2 linked regions of the Homo sapiens genome follow. The protein of the gene in region 1 interacts with the protein of each later gene in a biochemical or structural test. Each region holds a gene or a part of one and is shown in the gene's direction. Other genes may lie near its edges.

The links. The genes of interacting proteins can lie anywhere in the genome.
Region 2: the proteins of MYO1A (region 1) and CNN1 form a complex in vitro, tested with the Homo sapiens proteins (one study listed by BioGRID).

Annotation. Positions count from the first base shown.
Region 1 is NC_000012.12:57,039,915-57,047,673, reverse strand, and holds part of MYO1A (unconventional myosin-Ia), read left to right. Parts: coding exon 1-47; intron 48-266; coding exon 267-371; intron 372-566; coding exon 567-613; intron 614-747; coding exon 748-811; intron 812-1,023; coding exon 1,024-1,122; intron 1,123-3,464; coding exon 3,465-3,568; intron 3,569-3,670; coding exon 3,671-3,818; intron 3,819-4,315; coding exon 4,316-4,434; intron 4,435-4,515; coding exon 4,516-4,602; intron 4,603-6,176; coding exon 6,177-6,242; intron 6,243-6,385; coding exon 6,386-6,490; intron 6,491-7,759. UniProt on the Homo sapiens protein: Involved in directing the movement of organelles along actin filaments.
Region 2 is NC_000019.10:11,541,307-11,549,065, forward strand, and holds part of CNN1 (calponin-1), read left to right. Parts: intron 1-5,368; coding exon 5,369-5,435; intron 5,436-5,525; coding exon 5,526-5,663; intron 5,664-6,490; coding exon 6,491-6,601; intron 6,602-7,759. UniProt on the Homo sapiens protein: Thin filament-associated protein that is implicated in the regulation and modulation of smooth muscle contraction. It is capable of binding to actin, calmodulin and tropomyosin. The interaction of calponin with actin inhibits the actomyosin Mg-ATPase activity.

The DNA of each region.
Region 1 (7,759 bases):
AGACCAGTGTATCCTCATCACAGGCGAGAGTGGATCAGGGAAGACTGGTGAGGCCCCTGGCTGGGGGAACACATGGAGTCACCTCTGGAACTGCTTCCTTGTCTCTTTGCAAGCCAGACCTAGACCTGACCCTCCACCCCACAGAACTTCCTTTCCACTTTTTCTGACTCCAAGGGGTGGTGAGGCACTGGGGTGAAGCAAGTTAAGGAGGTGGGGGGATGGGCTAGTCCTGGGTGGGGACCCATGAGAGCGTTTTGCCTGCACAGAGGCCAGCAAGCTGGTGATGTCTTATGTGGCTGCCGTCTGTGGGAAAGGAGAGCAGGTGAACTCTGTGAAGGAGCAGCTGCTACAGTCTAACCCAGTGCTGGAGGGTGAGAATTCTGCTCTCTGCCCTCTCCACCCTCCATCTAACCCCCAGAATCACTGAGCCCTAGACCCTCTTCCCCAGTGCTGCAAAATCACCTCTCTTGTTCGACCCAGAAAAATCTGAGATTGTCATGAGGACTGGAAGCCCTTCCTCCTTTCCCTTCTCTAGAGTTTCACTTCTCCCCTCCTCATCTCTGTAGCTTTTGGCAATGCCAAGACCATTCGCAACAACAATTCCTCCCGATTTGTGAGTAAATGTCTCCCCACCTGGGAAGAGAGGATGTGGGGGCTTAAGAGGGAGGAATGTGGCACAGACCCCTTCCAGGCAGGGTGGTGAGAAGAGGAAGAAGCTAAGTCTCTCTCTCTGGTCTCTCTCTGAAGGGAAAATACATGGATATTGAATTTGACTTCAAGGGATCCCCCCTCGGTGGTGTCATCACAAACTGTACGTGTCTCCCCAATTCCACTCACCTGTCTTCCACCTGCCTCCCATGGCCCTTTCTGCTAATCTGTTCCTGTAGAAAGGCAGAATGTTAGACGTCAAGGAGACTTCCCAACCACTAGGAATGCCGGCGATGGGGGCATTCTCCAGTAGGGCTGGAGAAGCTACGGCATCTCCCAGGCCCTCAGGATATTATTTTTCTAATTCTCTGCCAGATCTGCTTGAGAAATCCCGATTAGTGAAGCAGCTCAAAGGAGAAAGGAACTTCCACATCTTCTATCAGCTGCTGGCTGGAGCAGATGAACAGCTGCTGAGTATGTGCCTGCATGGGGAAAGTGTCCTCATGAGTGACACATGGCAAAGTCCCCAACCTCCATTCAGTCCCAGAACCCCTGTTCCCTCTGGGCCCCTACAGCCCTCTTCCCTTGAGCCTCCCAGATTTTCCTTGCTGCATTTCCCATTCTCAGCCTCACCCACTCATTGTTGGGAACAAATTCCTTTACCCCTGTGTTCTCTTCCTTTTCTGGGGTTTTATTGCCAGGGATATGCCTTCTTGCCTCTTCACTGTTCTCGTTCCTCTTTCCTGCCTGGGTTCTGCTTTCCCTGAGCTGGCTTCAAATATAAAACACTTATATCCATCTACTTTCCTTCCTACCTTCAACTTAAGGGGATTTAATTAAAGCAGGGAAGCAGGCAGAATGTTGTAAGTGTTCAGGAACTTTCAGTGAACTCTAGTTGAAGCTGTCCTGGGTCTACATCTGCCTTACCTAGGACCCTGTTCCTGATTTTCTTTTCATTCATTCATTCACTCATTCATTTATTCATTCATTCAACATCTCTTGAACACCTATGATCAAATATTATGCTAGCCTCTAGGGATACAGAGTTGAGTAAGACATGACCCTGTCCTCGAAGAACTTATAGTCTTCTAGGGATAAGAGGTGTGTGAGCAGATCCATTGTAATATTGTGTGATCGGGGCCATCAGGCCTGTGCAGCTGGCTATAAGAGCAGAAGACCTAGAGCCCCTTGGCTTGGCCTGGGGAAGGGTCCATCACAGCCTGGATGCTGGACTGGCCTGAAGTGGCTCTGGGTGGGCATCACTGGAGTGTCTGGTGGACTTTAAGCCCTACTGGAGTTTGCCTCCCAATCTCCTCTCTGGCTGTGAGCACCGTGGGTGTCTGGCCCCTAAGAATGTCTCTTTGGTTTCTGGTGATTCTATGATAGACCTGTGCTATCTCCTTTTCCACTCTTGGAGATCTCTGTGATCTTCAGGAACCCCTGCAGATCTCATGCTCTTTCCTGGCTTAATAGTTTTGGTTATGTTCAACTTGTCTGCATCATGGGCATTAGTGTCTTGTTCTGGTTGGTCTGTCATCTATTGGTTTAAATCAACTCTAGATGAGGTCTCCCAGGTATCATCATCCCCAGACATTCTGACTCATTCTCCCTCCAGATACCCTCCTTAGCAGGCCCTTGTTTCAAACTTTGTGTGCTGGGGGAGCTGCCATTAGACTATAGTTTGAGGGATACTCCCTGATTCTCAGATCATTTGCATACCAGATAATTGACATCCCTCAAACTCCATGATTAACCGAATCCCTCCCATCCTAGGGAAACAGCTTTGATCATTCACTTGATTCATTTATTAAAAAGAGAAAATTTCCTGCATGCCAGAAAGGCACACAGAATATGGAGATGAGAAACACAGTCCCAACCCACAAGTTGCTCATTTATGGGAGAGACAGAAAAAAACAAAACCTAGCCCATATGATATGGGCTGGGATATAGATTCACCAGTGGGGAATGCAAGACAGCCATTTGGCTCAGGCCCTCAGCATCAGAGAAAACTTTTCAGAAGAGGTGTCAGGGTCAGGGAACATGCTACCTGCCACTTTATTGGTGTTTGGTGTTCAAACAATGAATGAGCAACCCACGCCAAGAGTTGAGGCTGGGGGCAGGCAGGAGATATGCGCTTACCCTTCTCCCCTTACCTTCACCGTCCAGAGGCACCTGCGTAGGATGGAAGGGTTGCTTGTTTATTTTTATTGTTTAGAACCCTGAGGGTAGGGAGAAGAGTAAAATGAGGGTTTTGTTTCATAAAAGTTGGGGGAAAACCCAATCAATATGAGCATCAAAACCCTAAACACTACTTAAAAGTATACTTAAAAATTTAGTCTGTTAGGCCGAGTGACTCATGCCTGTAATCCCAGCACTTTGAGAGGCCGAGGCGGGTGGATTGCTTGAGTGCAGGAGTCAAGACCAGCCTGGCCAACATAGAGAAACCCCATCTCTACTAAAAATACCAAAATTAGCCAGGCGTGGTGGCATGCACCCATAGTCCCAGCTACACAGGAGGCTGAGGCATGAGAATCACTTGAACCTGGGAGGTGGTGCTTGCAGTGAGCTGAGATCGCACCACTGCCCTCCAGCCTGTGTGACAGAGTGAGACCCTGTCTCAACAACAACAAAAATTAGTCTATCATCACAGGAATTAATGATCCCAAAACAAAGGAGGCAGGGGAAGAACCCAAAACAAAAATGACTCCTTTGGATAAGTGAATGAATCCATTAGGGCAAGGGCTGTGAGGTGTCAAGGCTGGAGGGCTCCAGAGAGCCTGGGTACTAACCATCTTCCCCAACACTGGCCCTCCCAGAGGCCCTGAAGCTTGAGCGGGATACAACTGGCTATGCCTATCTGAATCATGAAGTATCCAGAGTGGATGGCATGGACGACGCCTCCAGCTTCAGGGCTGTACAGGTGGGTGCCCAGGGTGAGGCAGGCTTGGGCCCTTAGGTCATCCTCTATTCGCATTGGACTGGCACCAACAGTTCAGCTTTTGATTTCTGCTTTCTGCCTAAGAGTGCAATGGCAGTGATTGGGTTCTCGGAGGAGGAGATTCGACAAGTGCTAGAGGTGACATCCATGGTGCTAAAGCTGGGGAACGTGTTGGTGGCTGATGAGTTCCAGGCCAGTGGGATACCAGCAAGTGGCATCCGTGATGGGAGAGGTCTGCATCCCAGCCTGCTGGAGCTCCTACCCAGACCCTGAATTTCCTACTACAAGTCGTGTCCTTCTACCATCTCTAGCATAATTGATCTCACCCTGATGCAGTCCCACTCAGCCCACTCCTGAGTTCTCCCCTAAACAGACTCACTGAGAACTCCCGATGAAGCATATTGGAATGAGCTTTTGAAATTTGATATATCTAGGTCTGGAAATTCTCTGAGTCTGAGTTGATTCTTCTGCAGAATGGGGATAATCACACCTAATTCAGGAGATTCTCATATTAAAGTAGATGATACATGCAAAATGCCCAGATCCCCTTTCTTCTGTCCCCCAACTCCCTGAGATTCCTCCAGGGCCATGTTCTGGGTTGGCTGCAATGACTTCTCCAGTGAGACCCCAGGACACCAGTGTCTCAGGCAGTTTCACTTATCAGATTGCACTCCCTCCCCTGAGAGAAAGCTGCCTCTAAGGACATGCTGTACTTTCTCATTATCCCAGGTGTTCGGGAGATTGGGGAGATGGTGGGCTTGAATTCAGAAGAAGTAGAGAGAGCTTTGTGCTCGAGGACCATGGAAACAGCCAAGGAAAAGGTGGTCACTGCACTGAATGTTATGCAGGTAAGGAGCTCACTGGAGTGGAGGGGGCTGTTTCGACCCTGTTCTGTGATGCCACCCTAATCAGCTGTGCCTCACCCACAGGCTCAGTATGCTCGGGACGCCCTGGCTAAGAACATCTACAGCCGCCTCTTTGACTGGATAGTGAATCGAATCAATGAGAGCATCAAGGCAAGTGGCCGCTCTGCTTTCTCCATGCTCTCCTGTCTGCCTCACCTTCCTGCCCTGTCACCAGCCCTATATCTTGGTTTCTGAGATGAGCAGAGTAGGGAGGATGATGGGGAGGGTACAGTTCCTTCTAACAGTGTGTTGTCATGGAAACATCACTGGCTTTTGAGTTAGACAATCTGGATATATCATCTACTTACTTAATTCAAAGTCATGTGGACTTTCAATTAAGTAAAAAGTCATGTGGACTTTCAATTTCACAAAGGTTCTGGGCCTCAGTGTCCTGATTTGGAAATGCCCACTAAGAAACACTAATATGCTGGGTGTGGTGGTCCATGCCTGTAATCCCAGGACTTTGGGAGGCTGAGGTGGGAGGATCACTTGAGCTCAGTAGTTCAAGACCAGTCTGGGCAATATAGTGAGACCCCAACTCTATATTTTATGAAAAAAAATAAGTTAAATAAAAAACTATTTAAGAAACACTAATGCATTCCTACCTGCTTCACAGGGTTTAATAAGGATCAGATAAATTATGTAAATAGTTACCATATGATACCACAATTCCCACTCCTAGGTATATACCCAAGAGAACTGAAATTAGATGTCCTCACTAAAATTTGTGCACAAATGTTCACAGAAGCCTTATTTGTAATAGCCAAAAAGTAGAAACAGCCCAAATGTCCATCAACTGATGAAGAGATAAACAAAATGTGGTATATCTGTACAAAAGAATGTTATTTGTCCATAAAAAGAATGAAGTACTGATACATGCTTCAAGATTGATGAGCCTGGAAAACATTATGCTGAGTGAAAGAAGGTAGTCACAAAAGACCACATTTTGTTTGATTCCATTCATATGAAATGTCCACAATAGGCAAATTCATAGAGATGGGAAGTAGATCAATGAATGCCAAGGGCTGGGGGGAGAGGGGTATGGGGAGTGACTAATAATGGGTATAGGATTTCTTTTGTGGGGTGGTGAAAATGTTCTGAAATTAGATAGTGGTGATGGTTGTACAACCTTTTGAATATACTAAAAAGCCACTGAATTGTACATGGTATGTGAATTATATTCAGTAAAGCTGTTATTAACAAATTATCCACATGGAAGTGCCATCTATTTAGAAGCTATTACTGAAAGGTAGTAGAATAAGAAGGAATTTGAGTCTAGGCTTGGTAAGTACCTATCCTTCTGAAATTTGACTTTGTTATCTGTAAAATGGGAACAATAATACCTTATAAGGTTATGATAAATAAAGACATGGAATCTTTTGTAAAATGCTCTACAAATATAAGAGATGGTTATTGTCCTGAGAGGTTTTATTGTCTTTCTACCTGGTACCATCGGAGCACCATCCTGGAATCTATCTGTATCTTCCTTTTCCTCCTTTCCTCCCTCTTTGCTTGTTCTCTAGTGTGTGGAGGAGGGAGAGTAAAATCACAACAATTCCTTTCCAGTTTGGCAAAGCTCTTGCTAGTTCTGTTTGCCCCCTACTCCAACCCCATCCGCTCCAGAAGGACCTGGCCTGGTGTGCAGAGGGGGCCTGTCCTCAGATTTATCTTTCTCTCCTCTTCAGGTGGGCATCGGGGAAAAGAAGAAGGTAATGGGAGTCCTTGATATCTACGGTTTTGAGATATTAGAGGTGAGAGTGCCTCACCTCAGCACCCTGCTCCCCTAGGATTAGAGGTGGACAGGCTCACAGGGGGGATGTGAGGGAGGGGAGGTAGGACTGAGACGGAGAAACAGTCTTGGAGTGAGCTCTCTAACCTGTGCTCCCTCTCTCAGGATAATAGCTTTGAGCAATTTGTGATCAACTACTGCAATGAGAAGCTGCAGCAGGTGTTCATAGAGATGACCCTGAAAGAAGAGCAAGAGGAATATAAGAGAGAAGTAAACCAAGTCTTTTCTACTTCCCCCTCTTAAACAACTTCTAGGCATATGCCAGAGCTTCCTTTCTCCTTGATCACAATTTCCTCTACATCGTCCCCAGATGTGAACACAGAGGACAAAATGTTTCCCTTGCATAGTAGATCATTCCAGCATTACCAAGTAGCCCTAATCCTCTGCTCTCCATTCTTCATTTCCCTGGCCTCCCAGGGTACATGTGTGGAAAGTCCTGACAAGAGGGAAGTGACAGCTGTGCTTGGCCTATGGCAGACTGTGAGCCAAATATAAAAAGGACATTTCTTCTGGGTTTGGCCCAACCACATCTCTTTCTATGCCCTTCTCTAACATCTCAGAGTCCTTGGTCTCCCCCGGGCCCTAGCTAGAGTTGCTGTCCTTTCTTGTAACACCATGATCCCAGACTTCCTCACCAGAAGTACCCCATGGCTCCAATTTCTATGGCTAAGTGTTAGAAAAGCTCTCTGATTGAGCTCATTACCTTCAAAGTGTGAATGGCTGAGAGTCTCACTCATCAAAACCCTCCCAGGGATGTTCCCTTGTGAGCTCTCAGGAATAGGTTATAACAGAATTTCAGGCAATGTGGTCACAATGTGTGAAAAAGTTTTTTTAGTTGTTTTGTATGTTTTAATTTTAACGATTTAAATGATCAGATACATAATACATTCCCATGCTTCAAAATTCAAAAAGCTTAGAAAGTATATAAGGAAAGTTTCCCTCCTACTTCTGCCCCTAGCCTCCTAGTTCTCCTCCCCACCCAGAGGCAACCAACATGGGCTTCCTTCCAGAAGTCCTTACGCATATGCAAGCAAATTTGTAAATATATTTCCCCACAAAATCTATACAAATGGCAGTAAATACACTCTGTTCTGTACCTTATTGTCATCACGTAACGAGATCTTTCCATGTCAGTATGTAAGGATGCTTTTTTACAGCAACACAGTATTTTAAGAATATCATAATTCCTTTAACTGGTTGGGGAAGGTATTTGGGGGATGAAGTGGGAGGCAACTTAATTTAATTTTGTTTTCTTTAAAGACCTGTGATAGAGGGAGGAAAGAAAGACCTATGCTTCCCAGCCATACCTGAGAATGTCCCAGCCTGGAGCGTCTGACCCTTGGGTGGGATCAGGAGCTATCCTGTCTGTAGGCCTGATGCCCAGCAAGTCCCCAAAGTAGAGAACGATTATCTTTGGGTCTTCTGCTTTTGTACCATTCTTGCTTTTCAAAACATTATATAGTCTCAAAGTCTCATGTA
Region 2 (7,759 bases), on another chromosome or scaffold:
GATACCTTTGGGGTGGCCAGTAATCATTGTGCCCATTTAACAGGCACAGAAAACTGAGGCTCAGGTGAAATGCATTGCACCAAGTCCCACGTGGTTTCAAGGGAAATGACTCTAGAATCTTAACCACCATGCTATATAGGGTAGGCCCATCTGTGGCCGCCAGAGTCCCCAGAAAGAGCGGTCACAGCTAAAAGGCAGCAGCCAACAGCTGTTCATGGCTGGCTTGGTGATGTGAGGAGAGATGTGCAGCAATAATTAAAGGAGGCCCTGGTTTTCTTTCTGTTTTCTTTTTGTTTTTTTGAGATACAGTCTTGTTCTGTTGCCCAGGCTGCAGTGCAGAGACACAATCTCGGCTCACTGCAACCTCCGCCTCCAGGGTTTAAGTGATTCTCCTGCCTCAGCCTCCCCAATAGCTGGGATTACAGGCACGCACCACCATGCCTGGCTAATTTTTGTATTTTTTTAAAGTAGAGATGGGGTTTCACCATGTTGGCCAGGATGGTTACGAACTCCTGACCTCAATTGATCCACCTACCTCAGCCTCCCAAAGTGCTGGGATTACAGGCACGTGCCACCATGCCCGGTTAATTTTTGTTTTTTTTTTTTTTTTTTCAGTAGAGATGGAGTTTCACCATGTTGACTAGGCTGGTCTTGAACTCCTGACTTCAAGTGATCCACCTGCCTTGGCCTCCCAAAGTGCTGGGATTGCAGGCACATGCCACCACGCCTGGCTAATTTTTGTATTTTTTTTTTTTTTTTTTAGTAGAGACAGTGTTTCACCATGTTGACCGGGCTGGTCTCAAACTCCTGACCTCAAGTGATCCACCTGCCTCGGCCTCCCAAATTGCTGGGATTACAGGCATGAGCCACCTCGCCCGACCTTCTTCTTCTTCTTCTTTTTTTTGAGATGGAGTCTTCCTCTGTCACCCGGGCTGGAGTGCAGTGACATGATCTCAGCTCACTGCAACCTCTGCTTTCCGGGTTCAAGTGATTCTTGTGTCTCAGCCTCCTGAGCAGCTGGGATTACAGGTGCCCACCACCTTGCCCGGATAACTTTTGTATTTTTAGTAGAGACGGGATTTTGCCATGTTGGCCTGGCTGGTCTCGAACTCCTGACCTCAAGTGATCCACCCGCCTTAGTCTCACAAAGTGCTGGCATTACAGGCATGAACCACTGCACCCTGCCGGCCCTGGTTTTCTCCTCGCCTCAAAACCTCATTGCTGAGGGAGGTGAAAACCCTAACAGCTCCCAAGCCCCAGTTCCACTGCAATCTTTTTTTTTTTTTTCAGATGGAATCTTGCTTTGTGACCCAGGCTGGAGTGCAGTGGCATGATCTTGGCTCACTGCAAGCTCTGCCTCCCAGGTTCAAGCAATTCTCCTGCCTCAGCCTCCTGAGTAGCTGGGATTACAGGTGCCCGCCACCACGCCCAGCTAATTTTTGTATTTTTAGTAGAGACGGGGTTTCACCATGTTGGTCAGGCTGGTCTCGAACCCCTGACCTTGTGATCCACCCACCTCGGCCTCCCAAAGTGCTGGGATTATAGGCGTGAGCCACCGCGCCCGGCTCCACTGCAATCTTAATGCATAGCAGGGCCCTAAACCCAGCCTGCGCCCGATCTGCATTTGAGTCTGACCCAGGGCAGAGTGACTGTGAGTGGCCTCGGGAAGACTTTGAAGGTGCAGCTTCATCAAGTCCTAGATGCTGGGAAGAAGGGGTGTGGGGGGTGTTTACCTTGTTCCATTCCCATCCACTAGGAACAAGGAATTGGCAGGTGGGGAGGTAGGCATGCTGGTGTCCCAGCTCAGGCAGAGGACTGCTCAGACGTCAAACAGTGCAGTCCCAGCCTGGGCAACATAGCCAGATTCCATCTCTACAAAACATTTTTGTTTTAATTAGCTTGGCATGGTGGCATGCGCCTGTGGTCCCAGCTACTCGGAAGGCTGAGGTGGGAGGATCGCTTGAGCCCTGGAGGTCAAGGCTGCAGTGAGCTATGATCGCGCCACTGCACTCCAGCCTGGGCAACAGTGAAACCCTGTCTCAAAAAAAAAAAAACTAATGTAAACGACAAGTTGATGGGTGCAGCAAACCAACATGGCACATGTATACCTATGTATCAAACCTGCACGTTGTGCATGTGTACCCTAGAACTTAAAGTATAATAATAATAATAATAATAATAATAAAAGAGTGGGCCGGGCGCGGTGACTCACGTCTGTAATCCCAGCACTTTGGGAGGCTGAGGCAGGCGGATCACGAGGTCAGGAGATCAAGACCATCCTGGCTAACACGGTGAAACCCTGTCTCTACTAAAAAAAATACAAAAAATTAGCCGGGCGTGGTGGCAGGCGCTTGTAGTCCCAGCTACTCGGGAGGCTGAGGCAGGAGAATAGCGTGAACCCGGGAGGCGGAGCTTGCAGTGAGCCGAGATCCCACCACTGCACTCCAGCTTGGGTGACAGAGCGAGACTCCGTCTCAAAAAAAAAAAAAAAAAAAAAGACCTAATGTAAATGACGAGTTGATGGGTGCAGCAAACCAAAATGGCACATGTATACCTATGTATCAAACCTGCACATAGTGCACATGTACCCCAGAAGTTAAAGTATAAGAAAAAAAAAAAGAGTGTAGTGCAGTCACCCACGCACTCCGGTCATTCACTCATTCATTCATTCATTCATTCACAAAAGAAGCATTTATGAGTTCCTGCTGTGTGCCAGGCTCTGGCCTAGGCACTGGGAACAGTGAACAGAACAGACTCGACTCAGAGCTCAAGGACTTTTAGTCCAGTTGAGGAGATCAATCATATAATTGATCAAATAATCACAGATTTGTGGTCGTAAGTGTCCTGGGGAAAACTCAAGCGGAAGGGAAGATGGGAGGGTCAGGTATATGTCTGCGGGTGGAGAGTCTGCAGTTTCCTAGAGAGTGGTCTGGGAGGCCTCTCTGAAGAGGTGACATTTGAACAGAACCTTAGATGAAGTGAGGGAGGGCTCAGGGGACCTGAGGCAAAGCAGAGGGGGCCACCAGTGCAAAGGCGTGAGGTAGGATCGTGCTTGGGGTGTTCAAGAAACAAGAAGGAGGCTGGCGTGACGAGCACCAAATGATTGAGCAGAAGTGGAGATGAAGTCGCAGAGTGAACTGAGAGTCAGATGGTGGAGGGCATTTTATTTCATTTATTTATTTAGAGACAGAGTCTTGCTCTGGTGCCCGGGCTGGAGTACAGCGGTGCAATCATAGCTCACTACAGCCTCGACTTCCTAGGCTCAACTGATCCTCCCACCCCAGCCTCTTCAGCCCCAGCCTCCTCAGTAGCTGGAACTACAGGCACACATCACCACGCCCGGTGAAGTTTTCGGGTTTTTTTTTTTTTTTTTTTTGTAGAGACACGGGTCTCACCATGTTGCCCAGGCTGATCTGAAACTCCTAGGCTCAAGCCATCCTCCTGTCTCGGCTTCCCAAAGCACTGGGATTACAGGTGTGAGCCACTGTGCCCAGTTCTACAGAGGGCATTTTAGGCAGAGGACTTAGGATTTCATTCTGAAGGCAATGGGAGGCTCCTGGAGGATTTGGAACTGGACGGTAACTTGAACTGTTTAAAAAAGGCCATTCTGGGCCAGGGGCAGTGGCTCATGCCTGTAATCCCAGCACTTTGGGAGGCTGAGGTGGGCATATCACTTGAGGTCAGGAGTTCGAAACCAACCTGACCAACATGGTGAAACCGCGTCTCTACTAAAAATACACAAAATTTAGCTGGGCATGGTAGCAGGCACCTGTAATCCCAACTACTTAGGAGGCTGAGGCAGGAGAATTGCTTGAACCCAGGAGACAGAGGTTGCAGTGAGCCGAGATCCCGCCACTGCCTTCCAGCCTGAGTGACAGAGCAAGACTCCATCTCGGAAAAAAAAAAAAAAATTCTGGCTGCTGGATGAAGAAGGGTGGGTCTGTAGGGGATGAAGTGGAAGTTGGGAGCTCATTACAAGAGGCCAGGAAACAGACTCTGGTGGCTGAGACCCAGGTGGAGGTGGCGGGGAGCAGTGGGTGGTTTTCTGGACTCATTAAAAGGCAGAGCCAAAGAACTTTGGAGGGACTGGACATGAGGCTGAGAGAAGGAGAAAGGGGGAGTTGGGGGCAAGTCCAAGGGCTCTGGCTGAGCACCTAGAAGGGGGCACTGCTAGGCAGGGAAGGTGGAGGGAGGGGGGAGTCTGGAGGGGGAAGCTGCATGTCAGGAGTCTGGAGCAGGGTGAGTTTGATTTGAGACACCCAGGCACCCATGGAGAGAGCTGAATGAGATGGTAAGAAACCCAAGCTGCAGGGAGATGAGGGAGTTGCTGGCATATGGAGGCACTTAAAGTCAAGACACTGAATGAGGCCAGGTGCTGTCACTCATGCCTGTAATCCCAGCGCTTTGGGAGGCTGAGGCAGGAGGATCGCTTGAGCCCAGGAGTTCAAGACCAGCTTGGGCAATACAAATACAGTGAAACCCCCTCTCTACCAAAAAAAAAAAAAAAAAAAAAGCCAGGCATGGTGGTGCGCACCTGTGATCCCAGCTACTCGGAAGGCTGAGGTGGGAGGATCGCTGGAGCCTGGGAAGTTGAGGCTGCAGTGAGCTGTGATTGCACCACTGCTCTCCAGCCTGGGCGACAAAGCCACACCCTGCATCAAAAAGAAAAAAAAAAGAAAAGAAAAGAAAAAAGAGGCGAGATCATTAAAGGAGTGAGTCAGAGAAGAGGCCCTTGTGGGCTTCCTGCTGTCTACAAGAGAAAAGGATGCTGAGACACGCCTGCCAGTGAGGCTTCGGAGATCCCAGAGACTCGGACACACCTTGGATAAGCAGGCTTTCTGACTGGGACCTGAGTCTAGCTCCTTGGCATCAGTGTCCCATTTGTGTGTGTGCTTGGGTGGTTTGGAGGGGCTGCAGCTGAGAGCTGACTGCAGGGAGAAGTGACGCTAGGGTATGGCATGGCCCCTTGTGGTCATCCCGTCACCCTCCTCCTGCTGGGCTGGGCTGGAGAGCGGGAGTGGGGGACACCTTTCTTTCTTTTTTTTTTTTTTTTGAGACGGAGTCTCGCTCTGTCCCCAAGCTGGAATGCAGTGCTGCAATCTCAGCTCACTGCAACCTCCGCCTCCTGGGTTCAAGTGATTGCCTCAGCCTCCTGAGTAGCTGGGAGTACAGGCATGTGCCACCACGCCTGGCTAATTTTTGTATTTTTAGTAGAGATGGGGTTTCACCATGTTGGCCAGGATAGTCTCGCTCTCCTGACCTCGTGATCCACCCGCCTTGGCCTCCCAAAGTGCTGGGATTACAGGCGTGAGCCACCGTGCCCAACCCTGGGGGGACACCTTTCTTACCCCTTCCCCACTCTTCTCAGATTCATCAATAAGCTGCAGCCAGGCTCCGTGAAGAAGATCAATGAGTCAACCCAAAATTGGCACCAGGTGAGCCCAGACACAATCTCTTCCATCCTTGCCCGCAAGCCCCTCAGACCTCCCCTCCCCACCCAGTGACCACCACCTGCCCCCCTCTAGCTGGAGAACATCGGCAACTTCATCAAGGCCATCACCAAGTATGGGGTGAAGCCCCACGACATTTTTGAGGCCAACGACCTGTTTGAGAACACCAACCATACACAGGTGCAGTCCACCCTCCTGGCTTTGGCCAGCATGGTGAGTGTGGTTGCAGGCTGGGCAGGGGGTGGTGGGCAGCCTGGGCTGGGATGCAGGTGTGGCCACTTGTGCTCCTGAGCCCAGTGAAGGTGGCGGAGCGGGGGGCAGGGATCGGGGAGCAGGTGCTGTCAACAGCGTCCAAGGGGGCCGGGCGCGGTCGCTCACACCTGTAATCCCAGCACTTTGGGAGGCCAAGGTGAGCGGATTGCTTGAGGCCGGGAGTTTGAGACCAGTCTGGCCAACATGGTGAAATCCCGTCTCTACTAAAAATACAAAAATTAGCTGGACGTGGTGACGCATGCCTGTAATCCCAGCTACTCAGGAGGCTGAGGCAGGAGAATCGCTTGAACCCGGGAGGCGGAGTCTGCAGTGAGCCGAGATCGTGCCACTGCCCAGCCTGGGTGACAGAGCCAAGACTCCGTCTCAAAAAAAAAAAAACAAAAAACAAAAAACAGTGTTGGCCGGGCACGGTGGCTCACGCCTGTAATCCCAGCACTTTGGGAGGCCGAGACAGGTGGATCACAAGGTCAGGAGATTGAGACCATCCTGGCTAACATGGTGAAACCCTGTCTCTACTAAAACTACAAAACAAAATTAGCCGGGCATGGTGGCAGGCGCTTGTAGTCCCAGCTACTAGGGAGACTGATGCAGGAGAATGGTGTGAAGCCGGGAGGCGGAGCTTGCAGTGAGCTGAGATCACGCCACTGCACTCCAGCCTGGGCAACAGAGCGAGACTCTGTGTCAACAACAACAAAAAAACAGTGTCCAAGGGGACTGTGCAGCCTGGAGGCCCCCTTGTCAGTCCCTGCTTTCCCTGCCCCACCTAGGCGAAGACGAAAGGAAACAAGGTGAACGTGGGAGTGAAGTACGCAGAGAAGCAGGAGCGGAAATTCGAGCCGGGGAAGCTAAGAGAAGGGCGGAACATCATTGGGCTGCAGGTACCGCCCTGTCCTCACTGCGCAGAGGTCATAGAGGCCAGGAGGGCACCCTGATGTCTGAAGGCTTTTGGGGACAGGATATTTGGCATTAACTATACTATAGGCCGGGTACTGTGCTTATGCTCATCTTCCATTCACAAACTCACTCACTCTGCCAACACCCCAGCAGACAGGTGCTTGTTATCAACATACCCTTTCCGCAGATGAGAAAACTGAGACCCGGAGAAGCTGGCTCGCTTTTGCACAGATCTTCCAGCTGATGCGTGGCAGGCTGGAACTTCAATGCTAGAAGTCAGTCATGTGATAGGCCCACTCTGGGCCTCAGTTTCCAGTCTCGAAAGGATGCCTCAGGCGGGGTGCAGTGGCTCACACCTGTAATTCCAGCACTTGGGGAGGCTGAGGCAGGAGGATTGCTTGAGGTCAGGTGTTTCAGACCAGCCTGGGCAAAATAGAACCCCCCTCCACCGCCATCTCTACAACAAATTTAAGAGTTTAGCCAAATGCAGTGGTGTCTGCCTGTGGTCCCAGCTACTTAGGAGGCTGAAGTGGGAGAATCACTTGAGCCCAGGAGTTCAAGGTTACAATGATTGCATCACTGGACTCCAGCCTGGGCGACAGAGTGAGACCCTGTCTCTAAAAATGAAAATGGGCTGGGTATGGTGGCTCATGCCAGTAATCCTAGCACTTCGGGAGGCCGAGGCAGGCGGATCACTTAAAGTCAAGAGTTCAAGGCCAGCCTGGCCAACGTGGTGAAACCCTGTCACTACCAAAAATACAAAAACTAGCCGGTGTGGTGGGGCACACCTGTAGTCCCAGCTACTCAGGAGGCTGAGGCAGGAGAATTGCTTGAACTCAGGAGGCAGAGGTTGCAGTGGGCCAAGATTGTGCCGCTGCACTCCAACCTGGGCGACAGAGTGAGATGCTATCTCAAATAAAATAAAATAAAACAAAAAAATAGAATAGAACAAAATAAAATATAAAAATAAACTAAAAAATGGGCCAGGCACAGTGGCTCACCCCTGTAATCCCAGCACTTTGGGAGGGTGAGGTGGGTGGATCACCTGAGGTCAGGAGTTCGAGACCAGCGTGGCCAACATGGTGAAACCCCATTTCTACTAAAAATACAAAAAATTATCCGGGCATGGTGATGCCCACCTG